Linked DNA regions of Homo sapiens. The protein of the gene in region 1 interacts with the protein of each later gene in a pairwise test. Each region holds a gene or a part of one and is shown on either strand. Other genes may lie near its edges.

Region 1 (4,566 bases):
TATTTAGAATGAAGCCATAGTCTTCTTTTCCTTTTTTTTGCTTTATAAAACTTGATTTTGTTTGGGTGTTTATAAAGAAGAAACTTGTAAAGATGCCAGTTTTAAAATTTGTGCCCCCCCAACATGGTAGGAAAATATTTACATTTTATGATGCATCCTCATATTTTTTTCAGGGTAAATGTTCCTAACCCAACCCTTCAGTTGATGTTTTAACATGTTTGTTTTACTCTTTGCAATGAAACCAAGAAGAAAATTTCTCTATTCTCAAACATGCATTTTAATCTCCCATTCCCACAAACTTGGAATATTTATTTAATACTTGAGGTATTAATTTAAAACTTGAAGCATATACTTAGTCTCTTATTCCTCTCCACCCTGGTCTTTGAAATGGAAACATAAAAGTTTATTCACCATAATTTTATACACAGCTTTTCAGGGGAAAAAAAACTGTACTGGGTAATAAGTATATGTAGATTGTTTCAGAGTTCTTAAATTATTGAAACATACCATTTACATATGTAAAATGTACTATACTTTAAAGATAGGTACTATAATTAGTAAATAGATTACTGTTAAATAACTTTTTTTAAAAAAAAGTTTCATCTATGCACATAGGCTCTGAGCAGATTTCAGATAGTTCCTGAATAAAAATCAAAATTGACTATCAGTTGCCATTTTATATATGTTAACATATAAAGAAAAAAGAGTCATTTGAGGATGGAAGATCAGCTAAAAAGCAAGTTGTAATATTTATAACAGTTCTGCAGGTGGAGGTGGCAGGGATTCATTAAGATCTTGATCAGAGTTGGGAGGAATAGAGAACTCCTGACACTGGATCTCAAGGTTGGAATCTTCTTGGTTTTTCATAAAATCTACTGGTGGCAGGGGCAAGTTAAGTGAGTCAAGCGGTGGAAATGATTGTATTATCTCAGATTTATGATCTCCACAGTCTTGATTGAGACAGTCCAGAGATGGAGGGAGACTAGTAGAATCATTTGGAAGAGGAGATACAATTGTCATTGTGGGTTTGTCAGATTGGTTACTTTCCTGTCCTTCCAAATCCAGAAGGGGAGGTGGTGGAGGCAGATCTGCATCATCTGAAGAAGAAACAGCAGTTCCAACTGTTGAACCATCAGCACTATCTTCTGATGTACCATTTACTTGATCTTTTATTTTCTCTGTTTTGGGGTTGTTGGAGTCTTCAATGTTTTCACTTGATTCAAACAACTTAATTTCTAAGTCATCTGCTAAAAGTGTGCTTTTGCTTGGTTTCCAGGGTGTAAGTGAAATGATTGATGTACGTTTTGTGGATATTTCATTTTCTCTGATGTTATCCATACAAATGTCAGGGGTTTCTCCATCAGCAAATGGAGATCTACCTGCCCAATTTTGATCATTTAAAACTGGTTTCCTTAAGCATTTCCAAAGTACAATGATGATTATAGCTACCAACATAGAAGTCAGAAGTACACCAATTAGTATGGCAGCTATTGAATTATAATTGTTTTTTTGTGGGGTTTGTTTGTTACTGGTAGTATCTAAGATAAATCCTGGTGTACTCCTAGGTGAATTTTTGACAGTTGATGTTGGTTGTGTGGATGGATTATGAACAGTTATTTGTTTTCTAGAAGGGATCTGGACAGATGATGATTGTTGAGTAAAAGTATAGACAAATGACTTTGGTGGTTGTGTGGTAGAAGTACGGGCAGATGGTAGTTGTCTGGCAGAGGTGAACACGGCTTGCTGGGAGGAGGTGTTGGCTATTGGTGTTGGTTGTTTGGTGTTGTAGGCAAGTGGTTGTCCAGCAGAAGTATGTGCTTCTGGTTTTTCAGAAGAGGTATAGACAGCTGGTGTTGGTTGTCCAGCAGTGACTTTGGCAGGTGATATTGATTGTCCAGAAAAAGTGTCGCTGAATTGTGTTGGTTGACCCAAAGGATTCCCTGTTGTGTTTTGAGAATTAGCCAATACCTGTGACATTGATGATGTGAATAAGGTAGGCTGTGACTGCTTCTCTGTTGTAATTGTCTCTGTCTTTGAAAAAAATGTATTGTTCAGGTGTCCACAAAACAAAATTAAGATGAAATATTTGGGATCCATTTCAGAATATTTCCTCGTTATCTATAGCGGGTTTATAATGAAAGAGAAAGACAGTTAGGCGTCATTGGTGTCTAGTTAAAAATTTGACTTTTCATTATGATTCCTGGCATAAAGTAGGTAGACATTATTCCTAATTAGTAGTAGTTGATTAGTAGTTATTATTCCTAATTTAGACTTGATACACTGTAGGTTTGGTGTAACAACTCTTGGATATACTCTAACCCATCATACAGCATTTGGACCTCATAAGCAGTGATCTCTCTTCTTTTATTAATACAAGTTCTGTACTTGGCTCTGCTGCCCCTCTAGCTTCATTATATTTCAGTACTTCACTTAGTCATACTTCTCAAAACGCATAGGCTCTATATGCTGGATCCATGTGTTCTCTACCTTTTTTCACCATTTTCTACTAGAAATATATTGATTCTCCTGCCTTGAAGAACACCAGTGATCATCTGTTACCTAATCTAATTGTTCTTTATTTCTTCTCTCCCCTCCCCTCCTTGACCACATTAGACACTACTGTTCCTTCACTAATATTCAAGTAGCTTTTTGTAATCAGTCTTCCTTTCATGTTACTCTCACTAGCTCTTTTTCTTCTGCCTCCTAAATATGGTTAATTGATATTCTGTCCTCACCCTTACCTACTTTTCTTTGTTCCTGATTCTGTAAGATTTTAGTTCTCAGCTTTATGCCACAATTCCTAAACCTGTACCTCCAGCCTACATCTTCTTTGTCCTAATTCTATTTGTGTGACTTCTTGGTGGATTTTTCCATATTTTATATATATAGATAGATAGACATAGATATAGATATAAATATCTCCCACTATCAGCAAATTCAACATATTTAAAATGGAGTTCATCTTTACCCTCACAACTGACAACTGACTCTTCTCCCAACTTCTCTGTATCTGTTAATGGTACCACTAAGTTTCTTAGGCACAGAGTCTATTAGTAATCTTTGAAGCATCCTTAGTGTCTCTGTAGCGTGGTAGCCTTATGTTAATATTGCATATTTTTAAAGAATTTCATTCAACTCAGAGTCTTAGGCTTAAAATCCTAGAGTGATCTCTGAATCTGGTGGAGTAAATTCAATCCAGTTGGTCAAGTAGTCCTGCTGCTGCTTTCATTCATCTATTGGTAAATGCCACATTTGTGTGGAGCTCTGTTCTAGGTTTAGGAGATTAAAAAAAAAAAAAAAAGATAGTCACTGCCTTTAAGTGTTTCAGATTCTAGTGATAGAAGCAAACAGTAAAGGCCAGGCGTAGTGGCTCATTCCTGTAATCCCAGCACTTTGGGAAGCCAAGATGGGAGGATCGTTTGAGGCCAGGAGTTCAAGAACAGCATGGACCACATAGTAAGATCCCATCTCTAAATAAAAAGAAGAAAGAAAAAAAGCTAAAAAATAATTACAATAATTTTTTTTTTTTCAAGACAGTCTTACTCTGTCACCCAGGCTGGAGTGTAGTGGCACAATCTGGGCTCACTGCAAATTCCGCTTCCCAGGTTCAACTGATTCTCCTCTCTCAGCCTCCAAGTAGCTGGGATTACAGGTACACATCACCACGCCTGGCCTATTTTTGTATTTTTAGCACAGACGGGGTTTCACCGTGTTGGCCAGGCTGCTCGAGAACTGACCTCAGGTGATCTGCCTGCCTTGGCCTCCCAAAGTGCTGGGATTACAGGTGTGAGCCACCACGCCTGGCCCAATTACAATAATTTGATAAGCTTTCTCATAAAAGTATGCAGGAGATGTACAGAGAAGTTAACCTAGCCTGGAAAGGCTTCAGTGAAGTAAAGCTTGAACTGAATTTTAAAAGTCTATAAAAACTAATTAAGTTTCCAGCCAGGGAGAGCAACAATGTGGGCACAGGAAAATAAGGCACATATGAAAGTTTGGCAGATAGGGCTTTTTCTGGGATGTGGTAGATGCTAAAACTTGGAGAGTTAAGTTTCAGTTCTACTTCTCCCATCTAACTACCTGTCTAACCATGAGAACTAGTTGCTTAACCTTTCCTGTTCTCAATTGCCTTTCCTCTAAAGTGAAGAGTTCTACTGAGACAATTTGCAACTTTTGGTATAATATACTTGTTTTGCACATCATCAAACACAATGGCAACTATTTGGTTATCTCTTAACATTAGGGAATAGAAAATCTTAGGGTGTTAGATATTGGTATACATGATTAGAAACTATAGTTCTTCTGACTCATAAGCCTATATTTAGAGAGATTTGATGTTCTGTTGGAAGGTGCAATAAAGGTTTTACAAATTACCTTTTCAGCATATCTAAACAGCATATCATTGCTTACTCCTCTACCACTTGGTACACAGTGATGATAAATGGCCCTGTTTTAGTAGAAGAAAAGATATGTGATTTTTTTCCCTATACGAATAATTCAAGCCTGAATTTTAAAACAGTTCTCCTTTGAACTCTCCTGCACACTGCTGAATTAATCTTAAAAGTG
Region 2 (3,891 bases), on another chromosome or scaffold:
ATGCTCTCCGCCACGCTCTTCTTGGTGGCGTAATGGTTCAGGTTGATGGGCTGGCTCCTGGGGTCGGAGCTTCCAGGCTGTAGGGGAGAAAGCACAGACTTACCAAGGGGAGCTCTGGAAGGGAAGCAGTTGAGAGGTGGGAGAGAGGAGAGAGGTTTTAAAGCTCTTTCCAATCCAGATGGGAAGCTCAGGGCAAATGACACCCTTAGTTTCATGGCCTGATAAAATGAAGGGTTGGACGAGAAAACCCATAAGGACCTCTGCACTCTGAAATGACATTCTGTTGCAGTTGATACTTCCTGGAGAGTCACCCCTTCCCTCACACCTTCACACATCTGGCTGGAGAAAGCCGGGAGGGTTCTCTGCTGCTGGTAAAATGCACCTTCCTCACCCTATTCACTATTTTACCTGGGCCAGGCCTCAGCTTTGGGCTGTGTTCTTTTCCTCTGAGAGGAAAGCACCTGAGAAGACAATAAAAAGAGCTTGGAGGCTTGGGTGAAATAGAGAAAGGCACCTCCTCTCGCATAATGCTGTGGCCCCCAAGGCAGGGTGCACAGCTCAGCAGCTGATCATCGGCTGGATTTCCAACCCTCAGGAGCACTGGAGCTGCCGCCCTGCTCAGGCACACACGCTGTCAGACACAGGCTCTCAGCATACACATGCATGCATGCATGAGTGTATACACACAGTAATGCATACTAGTTAAACACTCACATCATTTTAATTATTACTTTTGGCTAGGATTTATTGAAGCATAATTTACTAAAGCTTCTCCAGAAGCCACTAACTCCAAAAGACAGAATCACAATACAGGGCATATGCTGTGGGCCTCTGGGTTGGGCCAAGAATTTCAGACTGGGCGCCATGACCAAGGGCAATCTGCAGTCACTCAAGAGTACTTGGAAGATTGATTTAGCAGTGGTGCTTGGAACAGACTGGGCCAGGAAGGGCTAGAAGCAGGGAGAGTCATTTAAAAGTTATAGTATTGATTTAGGATCAGGGTGAAAAGGAACTGAAGTGGAGCAAGGTGAGACAGGAAGGAATGGAGGACTCTGAAGGATGCTACGGCCTGGAGGTAGGGAAGATGACCCAGCAGATCACCATGACAGGACAGATACCTGCAGAGTGGGGAGAGACGGATGGATTGAAGGATGCTATGGCCTGGAGGTAGGGAAGATGACCCAGCAGATCACCACGACAGGACAGATACCTGCTGCGTGGGGACAGATGGATGGATAGATGGATGCGTGCCTATATATGCACAGTGATGCATACCAGTTAAACACTCGTAATTTGTTTTTAATTTTTTTGGCTAGGATTTATTGAAGCATAATTTACATTTGATTTTGTTTTGAAGTATAAAATAAAGCTTCATGGATGAAGGGATGGATGGATGGATGGAGAGATTGGTGGGTGGATGGATGGATGCGTGGATGATTGGATAGGCAGGTCTCAGAGGGTCTGGAATGTTCCTTGTACTTCGTGCAGCCCCAGCAAGTCACTTCACTTCTCTGTACCTCAGGGATTTACACAGAGGACAGTTGATTTACACATAGGCTAACTGATTTACCTATCTATCAGAACCTTTGGATTCTATGAGCCCTTAGGATACCCCGAAATGAGGCTGGGTGCAGTGGCTCATGCCCGTAACTCCAGCACTTTGAGAGGCCAAGGCAGGGGGATCATTTGAGGTCAGGAGTTTGAGACTAGCCTGGCCAACATGGCAAAATCCCGTCTCTACTAAAAATACAAAAAAATCAGCTGGGTATGGTGTCACACGCCTGTAATCCCAGCTACTCAGGAGGCTGAGGCAGGAGAATCACTTGAACCAGGAGGCAGAGGTTGCAGTGAGCAGAGATCGCACCATTGCACTCTAGCCTGGGTGGCAGAGTAAGACTCTTGTCTCAAAACAAAAACAAAAACAAAACTCTGAAATGCAGTAGTCTCCAGACTTTCTTGATAGTGTAATCTCAGCATTAAAAACTGTTTTGGCCATGCATCCTCAATATATGTACATTCTTCCATTATCAACTATACATATTTTTATTGGACTAATTATATATATAGTAAAATATGCAAAAGTAGAAACATTTGAAAGGATTACATAAAATTCAATATAAATAGAAGTTTAATTTTCTTATCCTAAAATATGGTCTTGGGCACTCGTCTTTGGAGATCCAGCTCTAATCCACATGCCTGGCTACAGATTGGACCAATCCTCTCCTAGGCCAACAGAAGGGAGCCTCTCTTCCCCAGTCCTTCTCCTAACGTTTGCCTTCAAAACTCAGCCCCACGTCTCCACCCTGCTCTTCTCACTTCCTTTCCAAGCTCCTGGCCCTTTGCTCTGTTTGCCAGGAGGGTGCACACACACAGACACATTCAAGAGGCACAGGGTGGTCATGGGTGCTAACAGCACCTGCTCTGATGGAATCCACCCTGGCAGCCTGTGCCCCGCAGGCTGCCCCTCTCTGACTCTGTGGACCAGTCATTGGAGGATCAAACATATAGGAGTGGCTCTTTCACTCTGACCACACTCCAGGCCATCAGCTTTCTACACGGGGCAGTTCCCTGCACCTGGGTTGTTCATTATTGAGATTCCGAGTGTCCTCAACTTCTGGACGGGGCAGGACTCACAGAGGGTAATCAGGAGTGTGCACTTTGGCCAGTGGAGCAATTTAAACACTTTCTCTGGGAGAGTAGAATGGAGACCAGCGGGTAGCATTCATTCAATAGATTGACTGTACATGCCAGGCGGTGCTTGGGGCTGTGAGGACACCCCCCCCCCCCCGCCCCCCGGGTAAGCACTGGGCCACAGGCTGCTCACAACAGGCCCTGGCAAACTCCTTTTGACAGCCACCAAAATCAGGCTGGGGCCCAGGGCCCACAGAAATAAGAAAAAAGGCCATAGGCACGAAAGGAATGGAGTGCTCACTATCTCTCCCATCTTCCTTCGTGTTTGATTTTGCTGGGGCCGGGGTTTCAGCTGGTGCTGGGGGCAGCCAGTGAGGTTGGAGGAGGTAGGGATGGAGGGTAAATGAGGACCTGCATGGACTTGGGAGGCCACACACGGCGTTCAGGGCCTTTGGAAATCCAGTTCAAGCAAGGCTGGCTTGTCTAGGGCCAGCTGGCATGGTTGGTTAGGGCCAGGGATCCCAGGGCCAACACTTCACAAAGGCCCATGGTCGCCGTCAGCCCCAAGGCTGCAACCTGTGGTCTTAGCCCATTTGGTGAAGGTTTGTCCTCGGTCTCCAAGAGCACTCATTAGGCAAGAGAGTCTCACCCCCTGCACCCAAATTCAAAGTGTCTCTGCCCAGGTTCAACTGTGCCCCCTGGCCTCCCTGCCCCATGGCTGTGCCACCCCTCCTGTCTCTTCCCCATCCTCCAGTTTGTGCAGTAGCAGCAAGCTTTGCCCTTTCTCCTCCTTCCTGGTCTAGCTCAGAGGGAGACAGACCCCCTTCCCCCCAAATGTATCGTTAACAGTGGACAAAACCTTAAACCCAAACCTCTAGTGGCATGTGTTGAGCACTGACCAAATAGTGGGGGAAGGGGTGGCAGGGGGTGGCAGGGGTGAGTACACGGGCAGCACGGAGGTCTTCCCAACCTCTATGGAAGGTATTGCCATTTGTAAGTTTTAACAGAGCTGGTTGGCTTTTGTTGTTACATTAATCTGAGAGCCATTGCTTCACAGAGGACGTGAGGCTCGCAGTGTGCTTAGGGGGTGCGCCTCATCCTTTCCTCGCTAAATGCGGGGCCGACTCGGGCCTGCCTTTCACTGCGGGTGCTGGGCGGGATCAGGGTGTCCCCGCCTGCTCCAGAGTGTCCACACGGTGGCGCGCGCGGTCCAGAGACGTGACTTGGGCGCCGCGGCTGCCGGGGGGCGTTTCCACCCCG
Region 3 (4,871 bases), on another chromosome or scaffold:
TCAACGTTAATTCCTTGAAGTATTAATGTGTAATTAATACTCCAGAATTAATTCTATAATCAATGACTATTACATGACAAAGACAAAGATAAACAGTATTACGTTAACACTATTTGGCTTCTAGTGTCTTTTATCTTTTAATATATGCAAGCCAACATACAGAAACAAATCAACTTATAATATTTAATCCATGTTTTAGGGAAAAAAATCTTTCACCATTTCCTAGAAAGGAAGATTGGACTCAAACCAAAATCTAGGAACTTTACCTGGATGTATCTTATAGTTATTATTGATTATTGACTGCTGTGTGCATCCATTTTCTCACTCGTAGATGGAAGTGTCTGTTGCATTTTTCCTACGCTTTGGGTGTGTGGGAGCCAAAAACTTTATTCTTTTAGTTCACAAGTCTTCAGACCAAGAGTAAGTACAACAAAGGATAGGACTTTCCTTTATCTGCTCCTGGATCTGATTTAGCTTACAAAAATATCCTGTGTAAGAAGCCTGAACCTGATGCTATATTGATATGAGACTATTGTTTGCATTGGAAGGAAAAAGTGTATATTTCATGTCAGAGGAAACAAAATTTATTCCCAACGGAAAGGATGTGGCTATTTTTAAAAAATTAGCAAATACTAGGTACATTTCTCATTAAAAGTTGATGTGTATGGTCCACACCCTCCCCTCCATCCTCACTCCACCTTGAAGTAAAACAGGCTTGTGCCTACCTTGGTATTGAAAATTATATAATATAACTTCTAATACTAGGTCATAAAAGGCCATTTACTTTCTGTCTTGCTTGCTAGAAATCCCACTTTTGGAGCATTAAGCCACCCTTTCATGCTAATGCCAACAATGCACCTAGAGGCCATAAGTAGGCATTCTGGTAGACAGTCCTAGAGTACCTTAACCTTTTCAAGGCTTCTTATAAACTTTGTGTTTATAAGCATGAATTAGCTTTATCCTTAGGGCAAGTTTAGCCTTACTTAAAACAGTGTAGCTTTCCTTGGATCTTGTCTGAATGTTGCAAGTGTTCAATGAGGATTCTACTTTCTGGCTGTTCCAGTCTTGAAAGTTTCCAAATCCTACGTGAAGTCTTGGGAAACTTCAATTCACAATTCCTCCATATATGCAAAACCTACACAAATGACATATGAGGTTCTTTTCTGTTATAATGAAGAAATTAAGTTTTGAGCTTTGTAGCCAAAAAGAGACCTTTCCATGAACTAATACATCTCTCCCTCTAAGTGCCAGTCTTTCAAAATACTGGCTAGACGTTATCATTTCAAACATTATTATTATTGCAAATAGGGGAACTAGTTTTAATATGCTATCTTGTTGACCTAGTAAATATTTCCAGGTATAATTGATTTACAATAAGAGACAATACAGCGTAATAGTGAAAAACAGGCGCTCTGGAGCCGGACTGGATTTAAATCTTTGCTCTAACCCTTACTAGGGAGGTGAATTTGGCCATATTACTTAACCTCTCTGTGCCTCAGTGTTTTGTCTCTTGAAAAGGGGTGGGGGAGGGGAGATTATCACAGTATCTACCTCACTGGGTGTTTCAGGAAAGTTAAATTCATAAATATAAATAAAATGCTTAGCACAGCAACTGGTAATTAGTACTGGGAGTTTGCTGTTATTATTATGCTATTGTTGTTATAATTAATGATCTGAAGAATAACCAGAGCTCTATAGGTTTATCATGATTACTAATGAAGATGCCACTAAAAAAAAGAATTCAGGAGCATCTTGGCGGTGGCAGCGAGTTTGAAGATGCGACGATCAACGTTGAAGATCACCGCTCGCAACCCCGGGCCTGGCGCCGGGTAGGGGCGCGGCGCTCGATTTCCTTCCCTGCCTCCGCCGTCCCCCTGGTGCGCATGCTCAGCTCAGCTCGGCCCTCGCCTTTGATTTATTTTTTTTCTGGGCGGCCGCTGCGACCCGGGACTGACTTCGGGATGGGAAGTGGAGCCCCCGGAGCTGCTACCGTGGCGGCGGCGCTGTGAGGAGCAGCCAGGGGGAGGCAGCTGCGGCTCGCCGGTGAGTATCCGGGAAGCGCCACCATGGGGCTCCGTAAGAAGAGCACCAAGAACCCCCCCGTTCTCAGCCAGGAATTCATCCTGCAGAATCATGCGGACATCGTCTCCTGCGTGGGGATGTTCTTCCTGCTGGGGCTTGTGTTCGAGGGAACAGCAGAAGCATCCATCGTGTTTCTCACTCTTCAGCACAGTGTTGCTGTCCCTGCAGCAGAGGAACAAGCCACGGGCTCAAAGTCCCTCTATTATTATGGTGTCAAAGATTTGGCCACGGTTTTCTTCTACATGCTGGTGGCAATCATTATTCATGCCACAATTCAGGAATATGTGTTGGATAAAATTAACAAGAGAATGCAGTTCACCAAAGCGAAACAAAACAAGTTTAACGAGTCTGGTCAGTTTAGTGTGTTCTACTTTTTTTCTTGTATTTGGGGCACATTCATTTTAATCTCTGAAAACTGCCTGTCAGACCCAACTCTTATATGGAAGGCTCGTCCCCATAGCATGATGACATTTCAAATGAAGTTTTTCTACATATCCCAGTTGGCTTACTGGTTTCATGCTTTTCCTGAACTCTACTTCCAGAAAACCAAAAAACAAGACATCCCTCGTCAACTTGTCTACATTGGTCTTCACCTCTTCCACATTACTGGAGCTTATCTCTTGTACTTGAATCATTTGGGACTTCTTCTTTTGGTACTGCATTATTTTGTTGAATTACTTTCCCACATGTGCGGCCTGTTTTACTTTAGTGATGAAAAGTACCAGAAAGGCATATCTCTGTGGGCCATTGTGTTTATCTTGGGTAGACTTGTGACTTTAATTGTTTCCGTACTCACTGTTGGGTTTCACCTGGCTGGATCGCAGAATCGGAATCCTGATGCCCTTACTGGAAATGTAAATGTGTTGGCAGCTAAAATTGCTGTTCTGTCGTCCAGTTGCACGATCCAAGCCTACGTAACATGGAACTTAATTACTCTCTGGCTTCAGAGGTGGGTAGAAGATTCTAATATTCAGGCCTCATGTATGAAAAAGAAACGGTCGAGATCTTCTAAAAAAAGAACAGAAAACGGAGTGGGAGTGGAAACTTCAAATAGAGTAGACTGTCCGCCAAAGAGGAAAGAGAAATCTTCATAATCTTTGCAAGCGCATTGATTAATGTCTGCAAAGGAATCTGCTCTTTGAGGTTTCTTTCTGCACTAGAGATTTTTCTGTTTTTGAAAATAGTTCGTGCTCTTCGGTTTTTGTTATTGAACTGTTTCATGTATTTTTTAAAGACATTTGAGGGGAGGAGGATTATTATGAATGGGAAAAAAAGATTTTGGTTGAGACTAAATTACTCATCGTCAAAATAATGTCAAAATAGTTTTGGGGATCACCACTATATTTTGTTTTGATTTTTAACCTTTCAACATTTTCCTAATGATTTGCAGAGATAACTGCACAATTTTGCATATCAATGATACTGGTTCTTACTCCCACCAGTGTTTCATAATACTAACAAGATGGTCTCTCCTAGCAAGATTATGTGTTTAATGCTTGCTTTGGGGTAAAATAAAAGTACGAAAAAGGTGGAAGTCAAATCAGTATTCTGTAATTGTTAGAATTTATTTTTTAAGAACTTACAACTCAGAAAAGATTGCTAGACTCACCAAAATAATAAATGTTCTTTATTTTACAGGTAGTGATTATTAGTGCTTCATCCCCATTTAAAAAAACACAGTACTAATGGGTAACACATATGGAGGTTTGCTGCCATATATATTGCATCAAAATATCATTAATTAATATAAAAATATTAAAATCATTCCTGTCCATTCCACTTGTAAATGGGAATTCATGAAATTAAATATTACTTTAAAAAGGACATTGAACTTAGTCTTTTTTAAAAATGTTTATTAAAAATGATTCCTAATGAGGCCTTGTAAGATCAGTAACCACAGCATCTTAGAAAAATATTGTTTGTATACCAGGTTGAAAAATAATACTTGGCATGTGTATAAAAAAAGTCAGCTAATTACATTTGGAAAGCATGTTATGCATCAACCTTCAATAAGTTGAAAATCAGATAGTCACATGAAAGGCTTTTGAAAAATAATGTTGTGATTATTTGTCTTCATCTTTAATTGGGGAACATTTATCTGTATAAGACATATTTTGAAGATTATTTACATACACATGTATGTATAATCTGTATCTTTGCAGAAGCCAATGGAAACAATGGGAATTAGTGGGTGAGTATTTATACGTATTGCCTCTCAATCCTTATTTCAGTTTTATTTCCATAATGTGTTTATATAATTTTTCAGTAAGACAGTACTTTACAAATATGCTAGGGGAAGGCCATATATTTCCTATTCCGTTATATTTTCTCCTACTATGTCTCTCATCTCTAAATATTTTATAGCCAGCCCTCTCTTTGGTTTAAGTAATTCAACTCTCCCAAGCATGGAGGGCCCTCAAAATCAAGTTTAATGCTTTTATTACAGATCACAGACAGAAGAGCCACTCTTGGTAAAACATTCCTTTCTGTCTGCTTTCAGAAGTAAATATCAAAGCAAGATTTCATTTTTTAAATATAGAATCCATCATCTTACCTATTTTTGTTTTCAGTTACTGAATACTGTAATATTGGTAGCACATGTTGTAAGGTCCAAAGTAAACCAACTTTATGCAACTGAAAAACAAAGATTTTTACCTTCTCGTATGACAGAGAGTTCTTTTTTTAAAACCATTCTAGCCCATTACCTGTAACCCCACTCCTGGTAAGAAATGCCCTATATATTGTATACTTCTTTACAAATAAGTGCAGATCTGACTCAAACTGGAAAA
Region 4 (4,566 bases), on another chromosome or scaffold:
AAACACTTCTGGGCACCTGGCAGCCTTAGAGAGTGACTGTGAGTTTCTCAGGTGTGGTAACAGCACCAGGTATGTGTGTTTTTACAGATGTACAGGTCTTCCTCCTGCAGCGATCCGTGCAGAAACATCAGCAGCCAGGAACTGGCTCCCAGACCCCGGGTCAGGGGTGTGATCAACACTCAGGAGACAAGCCTGGCTGGGCGCTGGCGAGGACGCAGGCACTGCCAGGGCGAGCTCGGACCCCTCCCTAGGAGAGTGCCTACAATCGCGAACCATGGCTGGGTGCTGGCGAGGACGCGGGCGCTGGCGAGGACGCGGGCGCTGCCAGGGTGAGCTCAGACCCCTCCCTAGGAGAGCGCGTACAATCCCGGACCAGCACGCTCCGGTGGCCGCCTGGCTTCCCAGCAGGCCCACAACCTGGCAGCTGAGCCACATCACAGCCACCACGCCCATCAGAGAGAGGCTTACCACGCGCCCCAGCCGGAGAAGCCAATCGCCTGGATGACGGTCAGGACAAACTGGGCTCCGAAGATGAAGAAAAACGCCATGAAATTAAAGGAGCTGTCGGCTCTGGGGAGGGACAGAAAACACGACGGTTACCACAGCCCTGGCTTCTCCCAGACGCGCCTAGAGAGGAACGGGCCAGTCAGAGATGGTGAGAGCGGAGGCTCTATTTTATTCCTTTTTTTTTTTTTTTGAGATGGAGTCTCACTCTGTCGCCCAGGCTGGAGAGCAGTGTCGAGATCTCGGCTCACTGCAACCTCTGCCTCCCGGGTTCAAGCGATTCTCTTGCCTCAGCCTCCTGAGTAGCTGGGATTATAGGCGCCCGCAACCACGCCTGGCTAATTTTTGTACCTATAGTAGAGACAGCGTTTCACCATGTTGGCCAGGCTGGTCTTGAACTCCTGACCTCAGGTGATCCGCCTGCCTCGGCCTCCCAAAGTGCTGGGATTATAGGCCTGAGCCACTGCACCCAGCCAAAATTACTAGAAAGCAAAACAAAACAGACAGTAGTTGGCTCTGGCTTGTGGGCCACAGTTTGCCACCCCCAGATGTGAACTGTCTTTCACACTGGGCAGAGAAAGGGACAGCTCCTCACAGCTGGGCTGGGACTGGGGTGCAGAGTGGGCCCTGGTTCCCTCTGGGTGCAGACGGCCCCCGGCAGCTCTGCTCACCGGAAGGCCTTGTAGACAGGCCGGAACCAGCACACGTAGCCGCAAGGCGTGAACAGGAGCAGCCACACGAAGGCCAGGCCGAAGTTGGTCCCCGAGCCTCCGCCGATCCACCAGGCCAGGCAGGCAATGAGGTTGACGCCGAGGGTGGCGCAGTAAACTGCGAAGAGAGAGGGAGGACGGATGAGCAGGCACGGGAGGGTGTGGCCGTGGGAAAGCATGGGCCCAGCAATGGGGCACCCGCTGTCCGCCTCCCCAGCCCAGTGACCCCATGTCGAGGATGAACTGTGCAAGCCAAGACACTGGGGCCTGGACACCAGCCTCGTTCACCGCAGGGACCACCAGGCCCAGGACGGCTTCAGTAGACGGTGGGCCCCCGACGGGCTGCCCCTGCCTGAATGCCACTCCCTCCCTCGGGGAGCCCTGCCTCCCGCTTCCCGCCTCCTGCCCCCAGGCGCACTCACACATCCACAGCCGGTAGATCCTCTTCACCAGGACCTGGTGCTCCACTGGGATCTCGTCGGAGAAGTTCTGGTAGAAGCAGGGCTTCACAGGGATGAACTTGGGCAGTGGCGGGAAGTTGTTCTCCTTTTCTGTAGGGACAGAGAACCCACGGACAGAACCAGACTTTGTCTCTTGAAGGAGGCCCCACCTCATCCCTTCGACCCAAGGCTGGGTTGCCTCTCATGGCAGAAGGGACTCTGCAGTTGGGATTGAGGGCAGGACGCTGAGACAGGAGAGGGTCCTCGTGGCAGCCTCACGAGAGGAGACGGGAGGGTGGGAGTCAGAGAGAAACGGGAAGAGGCTGCGCTGAGGCTGTGAAGGGGGAGAAAGGGGCCCTGAGTGGAGGGATGGGGGCGCCTCTAGACGCTGGGCAAGGCGGGAACCGGCCTACAGCTTGATGTTAGCGTTTCTGGTCTCCAGAACTGTCAGATAACTGATTTCACTGTTTTAAGGAACTAAGTTTATGACTCTTTTTTTGAGACGGAGTCTCGCGCTGTCTCCCAGGCTAGAGGGCAGTGGTGCGATCTCGGCTCACTGCAGCCTCTGCCTCCCAAGCTCAAGTGATTCTTCTGCCTCAGCCTCCCAAGTAGCTGGGATTACAGGCGCCCACCACCACACCCGGCTAATTTTTGGATTTTTCTTTTTAGTAGACACGAGGTTTCACCATGTTGGCCAGGCTGGTTTTGAACTCCTGACCTCAAATAATCCGCCCACCTCTGCCTCCCAAAGTGCTGGGATAACAGGCGTGAGCCACCGCGCCCGGCCGAAATTGTTTTTTAAATTTACGTGTCACCCTTCATGCAGGGCCCTGCTACTCTTCGTAGCCCTCCTCCATGTTTAGTGTGGGTGCGGCTGCAGCAGGCTGCATTTAGTATCATTCCCTCCGGCAGGCAGGGACGCCAACATGCAGGCTCAGCAGGCCGAGTCCGCACACTGCGGGGAGGCTGTGGCCTGGGGACGCTTCCGTTCCCCATGGCTGCTGTGAGAAACCACCACCGACTGGGAGGCTTAGAACAACAGAAACTGCCCAGGTGTGGGGGCTCCCACCTGTGATCTCAGCACTTTTGGAGGCTGAGGCAGGAGGGCTGCTGGAGCCCAGGAGTTCCAGATCAGCCTGGCAACCTAGCGAGACCCCAACTCTACAAAAACTACAAAAATTAGCCAAGCGTGGTGGTGCGTGCCTGTGGTCCCAGCTTCTCGGGAGGCTGAGGCAGGAGGATCGCTTGAACCCAGGAAGTTAAAGCTGCAGTGAGCTATGATCACACCACTGCACTCCAGCCTGGGAGAGACCCAGACCCTGTCTCAAAACAAAACAAAGAACACAACAAATATTTATCTGCTAACAGTCCTGGAGGCCAGAAATCTGAGATCAAGGTGTCTCAGGAACGCGCTCCCTCTGCAGGCTCCGGGGAAGGAGCCTTCCTGCCTCTCTCAAGCAGCTTCTGGGGGATCCCAGCGCCCTTGGCTCATGGCCGCATAGCTCTGGCCTCTGCCTCCATCTCCACGACGACTCCTCCTGTATCTCCATGTCTTTTTTTTTTTTTTGAGATCCAGTCTCACTCTGTCACCCAGGCTGGAGTGCAGTGGCGTGATCTCGGCTCACCACAACTCCGCCTCCCAGGTTCAAGCGATTCTCCTGCCTCAGCCTCCCAAGTAGCTGGGACTACAGGTGCTGTGCCACCATGCCCAGCTAATATTTTTAGTAGGGATGGGGTTTCACTATGCTGTCCAGGCTGGTCTCAAACTCCTGACCTCATCATCTGCCCACCTCGGCCTCCCAAAAGTGCTGGGATTACAGGCGTGAGCCACCACGCCCGGACCATCTCTTTTTTTTTTTTCTGAGACAGTCTCGCTCTGTCACCCAGGCTGGAGTGCAGTGGCCCGATCTCGCTCACTGCAAGCTCCGCCTCCCGGGTTCACACCATTCTCCTGCCTCAGCCTCTCGAGTAGCTGGGACTACAGGCACCCGCCACCACGCCCAGCTAATTTTTTGTATTTTTAGTAGAGACGGGGTTTCACCGTGTTAGCCAGGATGGTCTCGATCTCCTGACCTCGTGATCCACCCGCCTCGGCCTCCCAAAGTGCTGGGATTACAGGCGTGAGCCACCGTGCCCGGCCTCCATCTCTTCTTATAAACACAGCAGGCACTGGGATGAGAGCTCGCCCTGCTCCAGTACTTTATCTTAACTCCATCACGTCCGGAGTTAAGGCCATATTCCCAAATGAGGTCCCACTCACAGGTTCCAGGGATCAAGATGGGAACACAGCCTTTGGGGCACTCAGCGTGGCACTGGGAGCCCCCCAGGAGCTTCTGCTCAGCCAGCACTGCCTGAGGAAGTGTCCCTGGGCGCCTGCGAGGGCCAGATGGGGAGTCAGACAGCAAGAGGCCCTGTCCTCAGGGGCTTACGCCCCACTGGGGAAGGCTGCCAGTAAATGAGTGGGTGAGGGACCCCGGGGCACATGAGAACACGCCCGCTGCTATAAGGAAAGAGCAGCTGTGATGGCAGGGGCACCCGGCTGGGCTGTGCTTCGGGTCAGTGAGGCGTCCGAGCGGATACACAGGCGGCTCTGCTGTCCTTTGCCCCCAGCAGAGGCGTGACTCCAGCTGTGCTGGGCTACGGGACCCGAGGAGTCAGAGGCCAGGTGGGCCAGGAGGACACTGTTTGCCAACGGCCAGGACCGAGGGCTCCTGTGGGAACTGCTGGCATCTCCCTCCCGCCCACGCTGCTGGAGGCTCCCAGGCAGGCAGGACTCACCTGACATCTCTGTTTCACCAACCAGCGCAGGCTGAAGCCTGCAGCCGCCTGGAAGGAAGACAACCACAGTCAGGGAACCCTGAGCTGCCCTGGGCAGAGCGCTAACCACCCACCCACCGTGGCTGAAAAGCCCT
Region 5 (3,907 bases), on another chromosome or scaffold:
GAAAAAGTGTGATTTTTTTTTTCCACTTTAAGGCTAGCCCCAGATGCTGTTGTGACACCTCAGCTACACTTAAAGTTGGTGTGGATTCCCCTTAAGGCAGGTTTCCCAGGAGCCACCTGGCTTTTATTTGTCTCACACAGTTCCAATTGTTCCCAACGGTTATTTCACACAAAAGCAGCTTTAGTTACCTGGTTAGACAGGTTGGTTACTCCTCTAATTCCTACTCATATTCAGGAAGAGGAGACTCTTGGCTTTGGACATTCAGATGATCGACCCTGCATTAGTTTGGCTACAGTGATGAGGTGGTTTGCTGATGCCATCTCTTCTCAAGTCTTTTGCATTCTGGTTTGCACCCTTACATCTGTTTTCTCCAACACCTCCAGTCATCTCCTGGCTCCTTTACCACTTCCTTTAACCACCCATAGGTTTTTCTCTGTGCTGGGAAAAACGTTCTGTCTCTTGCTCTCCTCTTCATCTATGAGACTATTATTCCTTCCTTTCACTGTCAAACAAACTTCTTACAAGTTTTTATTCCTAACCACTACTTCATTTCCTCTCTATACCTTCTTCCTCCCTACAATATGGCTTCTATCCCCACAATTGGATTGAACTCTCTTTCTGAAAGATTTTCAGGGAAACCTTTTTTTTTTTTCTTGCCAATCCTGACTTCACTTGTCCATTCCATGTTTTAGATCTCCTGTCATGTGAGCCTCCAGAATGGCTCCCTCCACAGAGTTCCCATTTTGGTCCATGGGAGCTCCAATTTTCACTTAATTAATTCATGCTTCCAGTTTTCTTTCAAAGTACTTCTCATCTGTCCCTTTCCATTCCCCTGGACACCACCCTGCTCCTGGCGCTGGTTCCTTTGCATCTGGATCTGCACTCTGCCTCTGGATCGCCCTGTTCCCAGTCTCTCCTTACTGAAATCTGCCCTATACACCACATTGATAATATCGTTGTTAAAGCACTATTTTACTGTGTCATTCCTTCGCTTATAAACCTTCAGTGCCCTTTGCCACCTATAAGTCCAAACTCAGGCTGGCTTTTCAGATCTTTCATAATATTTCCCCACACTACTTAGCCAATCTTATCTCCTACTAACTTCTAAATGTTAACTCTACTCCTGCCAACTTGGTCTCTTCATTGCTTCCCAGATACGTTGTCTCACCTGTATGCATTTGTACATGGCGTTTGCATTTTCTGGAACTCCCTCCCTAAATCCTTCTATACATTTTTCCAAAATATATCCTCCTTCCATGAAGTATTCTGTAACCCTTCTGATGAACTCATCACTTGCCCTTGTTCTTCTAAACATTCCTTACACACAAACAATTCATTTTGACGTTACCTTGCACACTCATTGCCAGACGTTGCCACCTGTTTTATATGTCTGTCTTCTGAACAAAACAAATTCCCTGTTGGCAAGGACGGTGGTATAAACCACCTTTGTATCCTTCAAGAAGCCCAACACATTGCTGAGTATATTGCAGGCCTCTAATAAATGCTTTAAATTGAAACGTGGTAATGATGTTTTAGAAAGAATGAGAATGACCATTTGTGTTTTCTTCTCTACCTCCAGTCAAGTATCATCACGTGGGCAAACTGCTGAAGGAGGGGGAGGAGCCCACTGTGTACTCAGATGAGGAAGAACCAAAAGATGAGAGTGCCCGGAAAAATGATTAAAGCATTCAGTGGAAGTATATCTATTTTTGTATTTTGCAAAATCATTTGTAACAGTCCACTCTGTCTTTAAAACATAGTGATTACAATATTTAGAAAGTTTTGAGCACTTGCTATAAGTTTTTTAATTAACATCACTAGTGACACTAATAAAATTAACTTCTTAGAATGCATGATGTGTTTGTGTGTCACAAATCCAGAAAGTGAACTGCAGTGCTGTAATACACATGTTAATACTGTTTTTCTTCTATCTGTAGTTAGTACAGGATGAATTTAAATGTGTTTTTCCTGAGAGACAAGGAAGACTTGGGTATTTCCCAAAACAGGTAAAAATCTTAAATGTGCACCAAGAGCAAAGGATCAACTTTTAGTCATGATGTTCTGTAAAGACAACAAATCCCTTTTTTTTTCTCAATTGACTTAACTGCATGATTTCTGTTTTATCTACCTCTAAAGCAAATCTGCAGTGTTCCAAAGACTTTGGTATGGATTAAGCGCTGTCCAGTAACAAAATGAAATCTCAAAACAGAGCTCAGCTGCAAAAAAGCATATTTTCTGTGTTTCTGGACTGCACTGTTGTCCTTGCCCTCACATAGACACTCAGACACCCTCACAAACACAGTAGTCTATAGTTAGGATTAAAATAGGATCTGAACATTCAAAAGAAAGCTTTGGAAAAAAAGAGCTGGCTGGCCTAAAAACCTAAATATATGATGAAGATTGTAGGACTGTCTTCCCAAGCCCCATGTTCATGGTGGGGCAATGGTTATTTGGTTATTTTACTCAATTGGTTACTCTCATTTGAAATGAGGGAGGGACATACAGAATAGGAACAGGTGTTTGCTCTCCTAAGAGCCTTCATGCACACCCCTGAACCACGAGGAAACAGTACAGTCGCTAGTCAAGTGGTTTTTAAAGTAAAGTATATTCATAAGGTAACAGTTATTCTGTTGTTATAAAACTATACCCACTGCAAAAGTAGTAGTCAAGTGTCTAGGTCTTTGATATTGCTCTTTTGGTTAACACTAAGCTTAAGTAGACTATACAGTTGTATGAATTTGTAAAAGTATATGAACACCTAGTGAGATTTCAAACTTGTAATTGTGGTTAAATAGTCATTGTATTTTCTTGTGAACTGTGTTTTATGATTTTACCTCAAATCAGAAAACAAAATGATGTGCTTTGGTCAGTTAATAAAAATGGTTTTACCCACTATAGTGTGGTGACTTATTTAAATTTTTTTAAAAACCTTATTCTAGGGAATCTGATTCAGACATTTTACTTTGGCTTAAAATTCAGTTTCATTTTTGAGTGCAGAGTTTTTGTATTCCAAAAGAAACAAGGGGCAAAATTTCATGGAGACCCCACACCAAAAACCAAATACCAGCTTGTCCTGTTTAAGAAATAGTGAATTGAATTGCTTTTTTTGTGACTTGTCAAAGTTTTGCCTAAATCAGAACTTTCTAAACTGTAAATGGCAGACCTCCACCTTGAAGTCTATAGCAAGGTTCTTAAGAAGTAAGGTTACTGAAGGCATTGTCATTGCCAAGTGCTAAGGAAGGGTTTGGGTTTTTTTGTGTTAATGTATTGTCTGATCAGGAAAGTATCAGGAATCCTTACAGTAGCAAAGTTAATTCACCTCGTGTCAAAAGAAGCATAACAGATTTGCATATGCAGTCAGTTGTATAAACAAAGACAACCTATTAGTGTTTTGTCATTTTAATGTTAACATTGGCAGAGTTTTCTTATAAGAGATATACTTCCTGAACCAAAGAAATTTCCATTTTTCATGTTATCAAACCACATTGCAGGTACTTGTGAGTTTTTTTTAATGTGCTCTTTTTTTTTCCCACTTGGTTTCATTCACCAAATGTTTGAGTGCCTGTTTTGTGCCATGTAACCTGTTATGCCTTATGCTTTGGAGAAGGAGTGGGGGAGAGAAGTTGGGCCCACCTTCGCAGCCTGAAATCTCATGTGCATGTGAAGATTAGGCTACTCATTTTGCAAAGTTAAACAGGCTTGTCTGCTGCCAAGAGGAAAATATCCAGAGCAAGCTTGTCCAACCCATGGCCCACGGGCTGCATGCGGCCCAGGAAAGCTTTGAATGTAGCTCAACACAAATTTGTAAACTTTCTTAAAACATGAGGTTTTTTTTGCAATTTTTTTTTTTTTTTTAGCTCATCAGCTCTCGTTAGTGTTAGTGTATTTTATGTGTGGCCTAAGACAG
Region 6 (4,249 bases), on another chromosome or scaffold:
CGGGAAGAGGCCAGTTGTTGCAGGAGTAGCTGTCCCTAGGGGCAGAACCCAAGTCTGAAATTGGTCTCAGTTAGAGACAATGGGTGTCTCTTTCGGGGTCTTTGTTCAGAGGCCTCAGTTTCCCCATCTGTGACATGATGGAGTGAACTGACAGTGACCTCCCTAATGCCCTCCTGCTCTGAGATTTGACACTGTGGCATTGTTGTGCCCAGGCTCAGCCTGGCATTGGCGCTGGGCCCTATCTCTCATGGCTGTCTGAACCAAGGCCACGTGGGTTGGACTTCTCACATGGCCAAAGAGATCACAAGGTTTAGGGGCTTGAGATTTTTGCCCTACAAGTTGGCTAGTCCTAATAGGTGACCTCCATCTGCGACCTCAGTGAGCCCTTGGCTTTGTCTCCACTTCCATAGAATGGGGTTGACCCTTCACCAGTCTGGCCATGGGCACAGCCACGGCACCACCAACCAGCAGGAGGAGAACCCCAGCGTCCGAGCTGCCTTCATCCATGTGATCGGCGACTTTATGCAGAGCATGGGTGTCCTAGTGGCAGCCTATATTTTATACTTCAAGGTCAGAGCTGGGACACAGGGTGGTGGGGGTGGCAGGGGAGTGTAGACCACCTGAGTATACTCTCTACCGGGGTTTCTTTTCAGATTCTAGCTCCCTCCCAGTTCTAGGGAAAAGGGTGGGGAGAGGAAAGGAACATTTATCCAATACCTACCAAGTGTCAGCACTTCTGATCCTCACAACAACCTGAAGGGTAGGTGGTAGTGTTTTCTGTAGCTCAGAAAGGTTCAGTGACTTGCACAGTGTCACACAGCCGGTAAAGCATAGAGCCAGATTCAAGCCTACGACTGTGTGTTGTCAAACCCTGGGCAATGCCCATCACATAGAGGCAGGGAGCTGTAGTGGAAAGAGGCAGGCATTTGCTCTGAAGCTTGGCTCTCCTCCTTGCTAGCCATGTGACATTGGATGAGTTTGCTTGCTCTAATGGAGCCTCAATTTCCCCATCTGTCAAATGGGGACGGATGGCGGATCAGATGGTATCTAAGATGCCTTTTTGCTCTGTCCATGTCTCAGCTCCTTGAGAAGGAGGGGTGGGAAGGGACTGCCTTATTCTGAACTGTGGTCTGTCCTTTCTGCTCTTGCAGATGTGAAATAAAGAGCAGAAAACTGGGAGGCAGGGCCAGGGCGAGGCTCATGCCCACCCAGCAGAGAGAGCACCTCTCCCCAGCAGTGCTGGGTGGGAGGGGAGAAGGGAAGCTGAGGTGTTAGATGGTGAACTCCAGGTCTGCCTTCCTGTCTTCCTGCAGCCAGAATACAAGTATGTAGACCCCATCTGCACCTTCGTCTTCTCCATCCTGGTCCTGGGGACAACCTTGACCATCCTGAGAGATGTGATCCTGGTGTTGATGGAAGGTAACCTGGGCTTTGTGGCTCCCTTTTTGCTCTTGGCTCTCAAGCGCTAATCAGCTCAAATAGGGTATGTGTGTGTCTGGGGCATCCTAGCACATGGGCGGGGAGCCAGGATCCGGAGCCCCGGCATAGGCTGGAAAACCTCCTGGGGCCCCTGGGCTGATCTTGACATAGAGCCTGGGCTTTCAGGTGTGGCAGTTCCTGGAACCGTCCCCCAGCCCGAGTCTTCCCTTCCCCCTACCCCTAAGGGTGCCTCCTCTGCCTAGTCAGGTGGCTTCTGGGGGACATCTGTAGCATCTGGAGCTCTCCAGCCCTCCCCTATACACTTCCCCAGGCTCTGGCTGCCTTCTCTCAGGAAGAGAGAGGGGGTGAGGATTATGCTTCTCATTGCACAGAGGGGCAGACTGAGGCTCAGAGAAGGACAGTCAGCCTTGGACAAAGCTACTGAATCCACTGCAGCGCAGGCCTTTCCTACATCTCAGGGACCAAACAATGCCACACCCTGTGGGGACATGGCTGTGCTTTGTGGGGTTGGAGAACGGTCAGTGGTGGAGAATGATCTGGTCTGCCCTGAATTACCTTTTTTTTTTCTTTTTTCTTTTTTTTGAAACAGGGTCTTGCTCTGTCATCCAAGCTAGAGTGCAGTGGTGCCACCAAGGCTCACCGCAGCCTTGACCTCCTAGGCTCAAGTAATCCTCCTGCCTCAGCCTCCCAAGTAGCTGGGACCACAGGCGCATGCCACCATGTCTGGCTAACTTTTAAATGTTTGTAGAGATGGGGGGGGGGTCTCACTATGTTGCCCTGGCTGGTCTCGAACTTTTGGGCTCAAGCAATCATCTCACTTCGGCCTCTCAAAGTGCTGGAGTTACAGATGTGAGCCACCACACCTGGCCCTGCACCTTGGCTTTCTTATGCTCTAGGCCTGGGGTCTTGGGCCAGGGTCATAGGCCTCTGCGTGGTCAGGGTCAGTCTGGAATGGAGTAGGATGCTGGCCTGGGCTTAGCAGTATTTGGCTGCAGGTCAGAGCTTTTTCTCCAAGAATATGCTAACCCAGATGAAAGCGATAATGATGAAGATGATGATCGTGCCCTGGGTGGGTCCAAGGATTCTCAGGATCTGTTCTTTCCTTCTTTCCATTCAAAAATATATTTATTGGCCAGGTGCGGTGGCTCACACCTGTAATCCCAGCACTGTGGGAGGCCGAGGCAGGCAGATTACCTGAGGTCAGGAGTTCAAGACCAGCCTGGCTAACACAGTGAAACCCTGTCTCTACCAAAAATACAAAAATTAGCCGGGCGTGGTGGCATGCGCCTGTAGTCCCAGCTACTCAGGAGGCTGAGGCAGGATAATTGCTTGAACCAGGGAGGCAGAGGTTGCAGTGAGCCAAGATCACGCCACTGCACTCCAGCCTGGGTGACAGAGCAAGATTCCGTCTCAAAAAAAACCAAAAAATATATTTATTGAGCACCTACTATGGAGTAGGTGCTGTTTTAGGCACCAAGGATACTGTGGTAATCAAAGGAGACTGTCCTGCCCTCATGGAGTGTCCATTTTAGAGGGAGAAACTGACAATAAGTACATTCATAAATAATTTCAGTGTTAAGAGTGGAGAGGAAATACAACAGAGTGATAGGGCAGAGACCTTGGGAGGTGAAGGCAGCCTCAGACCTGCAGGCCAAAGAGGTCTTCTTTGAGGGGATGACACCTGAGGATCAGGAGCCAGCCCTGCACCAATGGGCAGGCGTGGGAGGGGTAGTTTCCTTTAGTTTCCCCTGTCCTTGCCGTCCTCAGGGACCCCCAAGGGCGTTGACTTCACAGCTGTTCGTGATCTGCTGCTGTCGGTGGAGGGGGTAGAAGCCCTGCACAGCCTGCATATCTGGGCACTGACGGTGGCCCAGCCTGTTCTGTCTGTCCACATCGCCATTGGTGAGTGCTTGGGACACTCAGGGTGGGGTGGGAGACAGGCAGCCAAAGGCCTAGTGCCATCCCCAACGGGTCCAGGTGACCCCAGATGCTCACAGTGCCCATGCATCAAGCCCAGCCTCATGCTGAGTACTTGATACGCATTATTCCATCTGATCAGCACAATCTCATTTATCCATGAAGAAACTGAGGCTGGGGTTGGGTGGTAAAGTTACTTGCCCAGGCTTTTACAGCTAGTATATGGCAGTAGGTGGCAGATTCCTGGCCTTAAGGCCAGTGCTTTACCAGCTCTTTCAGGCATGAGCCAGGTCTGGGCTGGGAGGCTACCTGGCAGAGGAATGGAATCTGGGGGCTTCTCCATGTTCATGGTCCCCCATCCTGTTCTGCTGGGGATGGGGTATGAGATTTGGGCTCCTGATGGTTCCAAAGGGCCAGAGTAAATGGCTTCCCCCGCTGTGTCCTCTCGGCCCCCAGCTCAGAATACAGACGCCCAGGCTGTGCTGAAGACAGCCAGCAGCCGCCTCCAAGGGAAGTTCCACTTCCACACCGTGACCATCCAGATCGAGGACTACTCGGAGGACATGAAGGACTGTCAGGCATGCCAGGGCCCCTCAGACTGACTGCTCAGCCAGGCACCAACTGGGGCATGAACAGGACCTGCAGGTGGCTGGACTGAGTGTCCCCCAGGCCCAGCCAGGACTTTGCCTACCCCAGCTGTGTTGTAAACCAGGTCCCCCTCCTGACCTCTGCCCCACTCCAGGAATGGAGCTCTTCCCAGCCTCCCATCTGACTACAGCCAGGGTGGGGACTCAGCGGGTATAAAGCTAGTGTGACCCTGCTCTTCCAGCTCCTGGGCCAGCTCTGGAAGGGCTGTATTTGGGCCTAATCCTCAGCAAATGTTCTACCACTC
Region 7 (4,566 bases), on another chromosome or scaffold:
TCACTGCAACCTCAACCTGCTGAGGTCGAGTGATCCTCCTGCCTCAGCCTCCAGAGTAGCTGGGACTACAGCCATGTGCCATTGTGCCCAGCTAATTTTTTTTTTTTTTTTTTTCTAGCAGAGACAAGGTCTCACTATGTTGCCTAGCCTGGTCTTGAATTCCTGGGCTCAAGCAATTCTCCTGCCTCGGCCTCCCAAAGTGCTGGGGTTACAGGCATGAGCCACCAACCCAGCCTAAAATGGGGAAGGTATGAATGGGACTGGATGGGTGGCTTTGGGAGTGGTTCACAGAAGGTTCTTCTCAGAGAAGGCCCAAATGATGAGAAAGAGCCAGAAGAGGAGGAGCTGGGGAAGAAGGGTTCCAGGCAGAGGAACCACAAAACACCAAATCACTGAGGCAGGGCCAGGAAGAAAGTCTATGTGGCTGGAGTGGTGTGTGATGGGGGCAGGTGAAGGCAGTGAGGCCAGACAGGCACTGGCAGCCAGATCCTGTTGGGCCTCGAGGGCTGCTGGGAGTCATCGAGGAAGTGTTTTAAGCAGGGGGGTGGTTCGGGGAAAGGTGGCTCTGGCTGCCGTGTGGAGAGTGGTTGGGGTGAGGGAGCAAGTCTAGGAGACCCTGGAAGAAGGATCCCCTGAGTTCTTTCCACGGATAGACCGTAGGAGCTGCCTGGGCCAATACTGTTCTAGCCTCTGAATACACAGCCAGGAACAAGAGAGGCAAACAGCCAAATCCCTATTCTCCTGGGGCTCATGTCCTGGCTGGGGAGACAGAAAATAAGCCTGTAAAAATTAATTACTATTATTATTGTTATTATTTTTATTTGTATTATTGTTTACTTAAAGACCAGTGTGATAGTACAGTTAAAAAAAAATTAGAAAGCGATGAGGCCAGTCACAGTGGCTCACACCTATAATCTCAGCTATGGGAGGCCAAGGTGGGAGGTTCTCTGGAGCCCAGGAGTTCAAGACAGGCTGGGCAACATGGTGAAACTCCATCTCTACAAAAAATTTAAAAATTAGCCAGGTTATGGTAACATGCACCTGTGGACCCAGCTACTTGGGAGGCTGAGGTGGGAGGATCGCTTGAGCCTATGAGATCAAGGCTGTAGAGACCCATGATCATGCCATTACACTCCAAACTGGGCAACAGAGTGAGACCCTGTCTCTAAAAAAGAGAGAAATGAGTGTTAGGGGACAGGCCCAGTGGATCATGCCTGTAATCCCAACACTTTGAAAAGCTGAGATGGGAGAACCGCTTGAGGCCAGGAGTTCAAGACCAGCCTCGGCAACATAGTGAGACTCATCTCTACAAAAATTAAAGAATTAGCTGGGCGTCCGCCAGGCATGGTGGCTCACGCCTGTAATCCCAGGACTTTGAGAGGCCAAGGTGGGTGAATCACTTGAGGCCAGGAGTTCGAGACCAGCCTGGCCAACATGGCAAAACCCTGTCTCTATCAAAATTACAAAAATTAGCCGGGCGTGGTGGTGGTGCCTGTAATCCCAGCTACTCGGGAGGCTAAGGCATGAGAATCACTTGAACCTGGGAGGCCGAGGTTGCAGTGAGCCAAGATCGCGCCGCTGCACTCCAGCCTGGGGGAGAAAGTGAGACTCTGTCTTCAAAAAAAAAAAATTAGCCAGGCATGGTGGCATGTGCCTGTAGTCCCAGTGACTTGGGAGGCCAAGTCAGGAGGAACTTGAGTCTAAGAATTCAAGACTACAGTGGAACTATGATTGTACCACTTCACTCCAGCCTGAGTGACAGAGCAAGATCCTGTCTTTAAAAAAAAAAAAAAAAACGGCCAGGCACTGGGGCTCACGCCTGTGATCCCAGCACTTTGGGAGGCCCAGGCAGGCAGATCACATGAGGTCAGGAGTTCGAGACCAGCCCAACCAACATGGCGAAACCCCATCTTACTAAAAATAAAAAAATTAGGGCTGGGCGTGGTGGCTCACGCCTGTAATCCCAGCACTTCCCGAGGCAGGCGGATGACGAGGTCAGGAGTTCGAGACCAGCCTGGCCAACATAGTGAAACCTCATTTCTACTAAAAATACAAAAATTAGTCAGGCTTGGTGGCGGGCGCCTGTAATCCCAGCTACTCGGGAGTCTGTGGCAGGAGAATCACTTAAAACCAGAAGGCAGAGGTGGCAGTAAGCTGAAATCGCACCACTGCATTCCAGCCTGGGTGAAAGAGCAAAACTCCATCTCAAAAAAAAAAAAAAATTAGCCAGGTGTGGCGGCAGGTGACTGTAATCCCAGCTGCTTAGGAGGCTGAGGCATGAGAACCCAGGAGACCAAGATCATGCCATTGTACTCCAGCCTGGGCATGACAGAGCGCGACTCCATCTCAAAAAAAAAAAAAAAAAAAAAAAAAAAAATTAGCCGGGCATGGTGTAATCCCAGCTACTCAGGAGGCTGAGGCAGGAGAATCACTTGAACCTGGGAAGTGGAGGCTGCACTGAGCCGAGATCGTGCCACCGCGTGCCAGCCTGGGCAACAAGAGTGAAACTCCATCTCAAAAAAATAAAAAAGAAGAAGGCTGGGTGTAGTGGCTCACACTCTGGGAGGGTGAGGTAGGAGGATTACTTGAGCCCAGGAGTTCAAGACCAGACTGGGAAACGTAGCAAGACCCCATCTCTACAAGAAAATTAGCTGGGTGTGGTGGCATCTGCCTGTAGTCCTAGCTACCTGGGAGGCTCAGGTGGGAGAATCGCTTGAGCCGAGGAGGTCAAGGCTGCAGTGAGCCATGATCACACTACTGCGCTCTAGTCTGGGTAACAGGGCAAGACTCTGTCTCAAAAAAGAAAAGAAAAATAAGACAGCGTGATGTGAGAGAGTGCCTGGGGTGGGGGTCATTGTAGATGGACTGGCAGGAAGCATTCTCTGAGGAAGGACATCTAAACTGAGACCCAAATGATAAGGAGATGGCATCTGAAGGTCTGCCAGACAGAACAGTCAGTGCCAAGGCACTGAGGTGGGAATGTGCTGGGCAAGTTCAGGCTCAGAAAGCTGGGGGCTGGAGGGCTTCCAGCGATGGGGGATCTGAGAAGTCAGGGAGGGAGGCATCTGATCGGAGCCCCATCTCCCACTCTGAGCCTCCGTCTAAGTGTCCAGAGCTGCTGCTGCAGCCTCCAGGCTGATGTTGCTCCTAGGAGGAGTGGACAGTCCACCCCACTACCCTCCCAGGGTTGCCCTGACCCAGTTGTCCCTGCCCACAGGCATCTGTGGCTTCCTGACCTTTGGAGCTGCTGTGGATCCTGACGTGCTCCTGTCCTATCCCTCGGAGGACATGGCCGTGGCCGTTGCCCGAGCCTTCATCATCCTGAGCGTGCTCACCTCCTACCCTATCCTGCACTTCTGTGGGCGGTGAGCCCCCTTCCACTCCCCAGGGCCCCTCCTAGCCCCTGTGAGCGCTTCCAACATGGTCCTTTGGCCTTGTGTGGACCCCATCCTGTAGAAGGAGAAACTGAAGCCTGTAGAAAAGAGTCGGTGCCTAGGATGGGTCCCTACATATCCCAGGCCAGGTGTCAGAAGCGCCCTTTGTCCTGGGGTCACCAGAACATTCCGTGAGTCCTGTAAGAATCTCTATCCATGGCATGGCACGGTGGCTCACGTCTCTAAACCCAGCACTTTGGGAGGCTGAGGCAGAAGGATCGCTTGAGCCTGGGAGTTCAAGACCACCTGGGCAACCTAGTGAGACCCCATCTCTACACAAAATAAAATAAATAGCCAGGTGTGGTGGGATGCACCTGTGGTCCCAGCTACTCAGCCACTTGGGAGGCTGAGGCAGAAGGATGGCTGGAGCCCAGGAGTTCAAGGCTGCAGTGAGCCAAGATTGCACCACTGCACTCCAGCCTGGGTGAGAGAGCCAGACCCTGTCTCAAAAAAACAAAAAACAAAAGAATCTCTATCCAGATCCTTTCCTGAGCTTTCACATGGACACCCTCCCCTTTGGATGCCCCAGACAGTTCCTTTTAAGGAAAAAACAATATCAGTTTCCATGTGATGTAAAGCAAAGTGCTAAGCTCTCGACATTCACCGTCTCTAGTCCCTGTGGTAAACAGAGTGCTGGTGGCCCATTTTACAGAAGAGGAAACTGAGGGTCAGGAATGGGGCTTTCCCCGCAGTCTACCCAGTTAGGGGTCTGGCTCCTGTGAGCTAGAGGTGGGGAGCTGCTAGCAGCAGGGGCACCTCTAAGCCCTTCTCCATGTGGGCAGGGCGGTGGTGGAAGGCCTGTGGCTGCGCTACCAGGGGGTGCCAGTGGAGGAGGACGTGGGGCGGGAGCGGCGGCGGCGAGTGCTGCAGACGCTGGTCTGGTTCCTGCTCACCCTGCTGCTGGCGCTCTTCATCCCTGACATCGGCAAGGTGATCTCAGTCATTGGAGGCCTGGCCGCCTGCTTCATCTTCGTCTTCCCAGGTGCGGACCCCTGGCGCCCCATCTCACAGCCCCACAGCACAGACTCCCAGGGCCTGCCTAGCCTCAGCTCCCTACTTGCTCAAAACATGCAGGAGAGAGTAACCACCAGCACTAATTGATCACCTGTCTCGCCTCTGTACTAGCCCCTAT

Evidence for each region.
Region 2: the proteins of EVI2B (region 1) and NINJ2 interact in binary tests that used the Homo sapiens proteins (3 or more experiments, as listed by UniProt).
Region 3: the proteins of EVI2B (region 1) and TRAM1L1 interact in binary tests that used the Homo sapiens proteins (3 or more experiments, as listed by UniProt).
Region 4: the proteins of EVI2B (region 1) and SCAMP4 interact in binary tests that used the Homo sapiens proteins (3 or more experiments, as listed by UniProt).
Region 5: the proteins of EVI2B (region 1) and PGRMC1 interact in binary tests that used the Homo sapiens proteins (3 or more experiments, as listed by UniProt).
Region 6: the proteins of EVI2B (region 1) and SLC30A2 interact in binary tests that used the Homo sapiens proteins (3 or more experiments, as listed by UniProt).
Region 7: the proteins of EVI2B (region 1) and SLC38A7 interact in binary tests that used the Homo sapiens proteins (3 or more experiments, as listed by UniProt).

What each region holds. Positions count from the first base shown.
Region 1 is NC_000017.11:31,303,513-31,308,078, forward strand, and holds the end of EVI2B (protein EVI2B precursor), read right to left. Parts: intron 2,119-4,566; 5' UTR 2,098-2,118; coding exon 751-2,097; 3' UTR 258-750; downstream 1-257. UniProt on the Homo sapiens protein: Required for granulocyte differentiation and functionality of hematopoietic progenitor cells through the control of cell cycle progression and survival of hematopoietic progenitor cells.
Region 2 is NC_000012.12:566,102-569,992, forward strand, and holds part of NINJ2 (ninjurin-2), read right to left. Parts: intron 78-3,891; coding exon 1-77. UniProt on the Homo sapiens protein: Its role in unclear. In contrast to NINJ1 paralog, does not mediate plasma membrane rupture (cytolysis) downstream of necroptotic and pyroptotic programmed cell death.
Region 3 is NC_000004.12:117,082,589-117,087,459, reverse strand, and holds TRAM1L1 (translocating chain-associated membrane protein 1-like 1), read left to right. Parts: upstream 1-1,883; 5' UTR 1,884-2,066; coding exon 2,067-3,176; 3' UTR 3,177-3,906; downstream 3,907-4,871. UniProt on the Homo sapiens protein: Stimulatory or required for the translocation of secretory proteins across the ER membrane.
Region 4 is NC_000019.10:1,914,893-1,919,458, reverse strand, and holds part of SCAMP4 (secretory carrier-associated membrane protein 4), read right to left. Parts: intron 4,481-4,566; 5' UTR 4,440-4,480; coding exon 4,433-4,439; intron 1,766-4,432; coding exon 1,637-1,765; intron 1,333-1,636; coding exon 1,176-1,332; intron 571-1,175; coding exon 469-570; intron 1-468. UniProt on the Homo sapiens protein: Probably involved in membrane protein trafficking.
Region 5 is NC_000023.11:119,241,572-119,245,478, forward strand, and holds the end of PGRMC1 (membrane-associated progesterone receptor component 1), read left to right. Parts: intron 1-1,579; coding exon 1,580-1,683; 3' UTR 1,684-2,895; downstream 2,896-3,907. UniProt on the Homo sapiens protein: Component of a progesterone-binding protein complex. Binds progesterone. Has many reported cellular functions (heme homeostasis, interaction with CYPs). Required for the maintenance of uterine histoarchitecture and normal female reproductive lifespan.
Region 6 is NC_000001.11:26,038,870-26,043,118, reverse strand, and holds part of SLC30A2 (proton-coupled zinc antiporter SLC30A2), read left to right. Parts: intron 1-410; coding exon 411-570; intron 571-1,313; coding exon 1,314-1,419; intron 1,420-3,207; coding exon 3,208-3,342; intron 3,343-3,813; coding exon 3,814-3,959; 3' UTR 3,960-4,249.
Region 7 is NC_000016.10:58,670,895-58,675,460, reverse strand, and holds part of SLC38A7 (sodium-coupled neutral amino acid transporter 7), read left to right. Parts: intron 1-118; coding exon of another isoform or gene 119-147; exon of another isoform or gene 148-211; intron 212-3,217; coding exon 3,218-3,365; intron 3,366-4,216; coding exon 4,217-4,416; exon of another isoform or gene 4,417-4,566. UniProt on the Homo sapiens protein: Symporter that selectively cotransports sodium ions and amino acids, such as L-glutamine and L-asparagine from the lysosome into the cytoplasm and may participates in mTORC1 activation. The transport activity requires an acidic lysosomal lumen.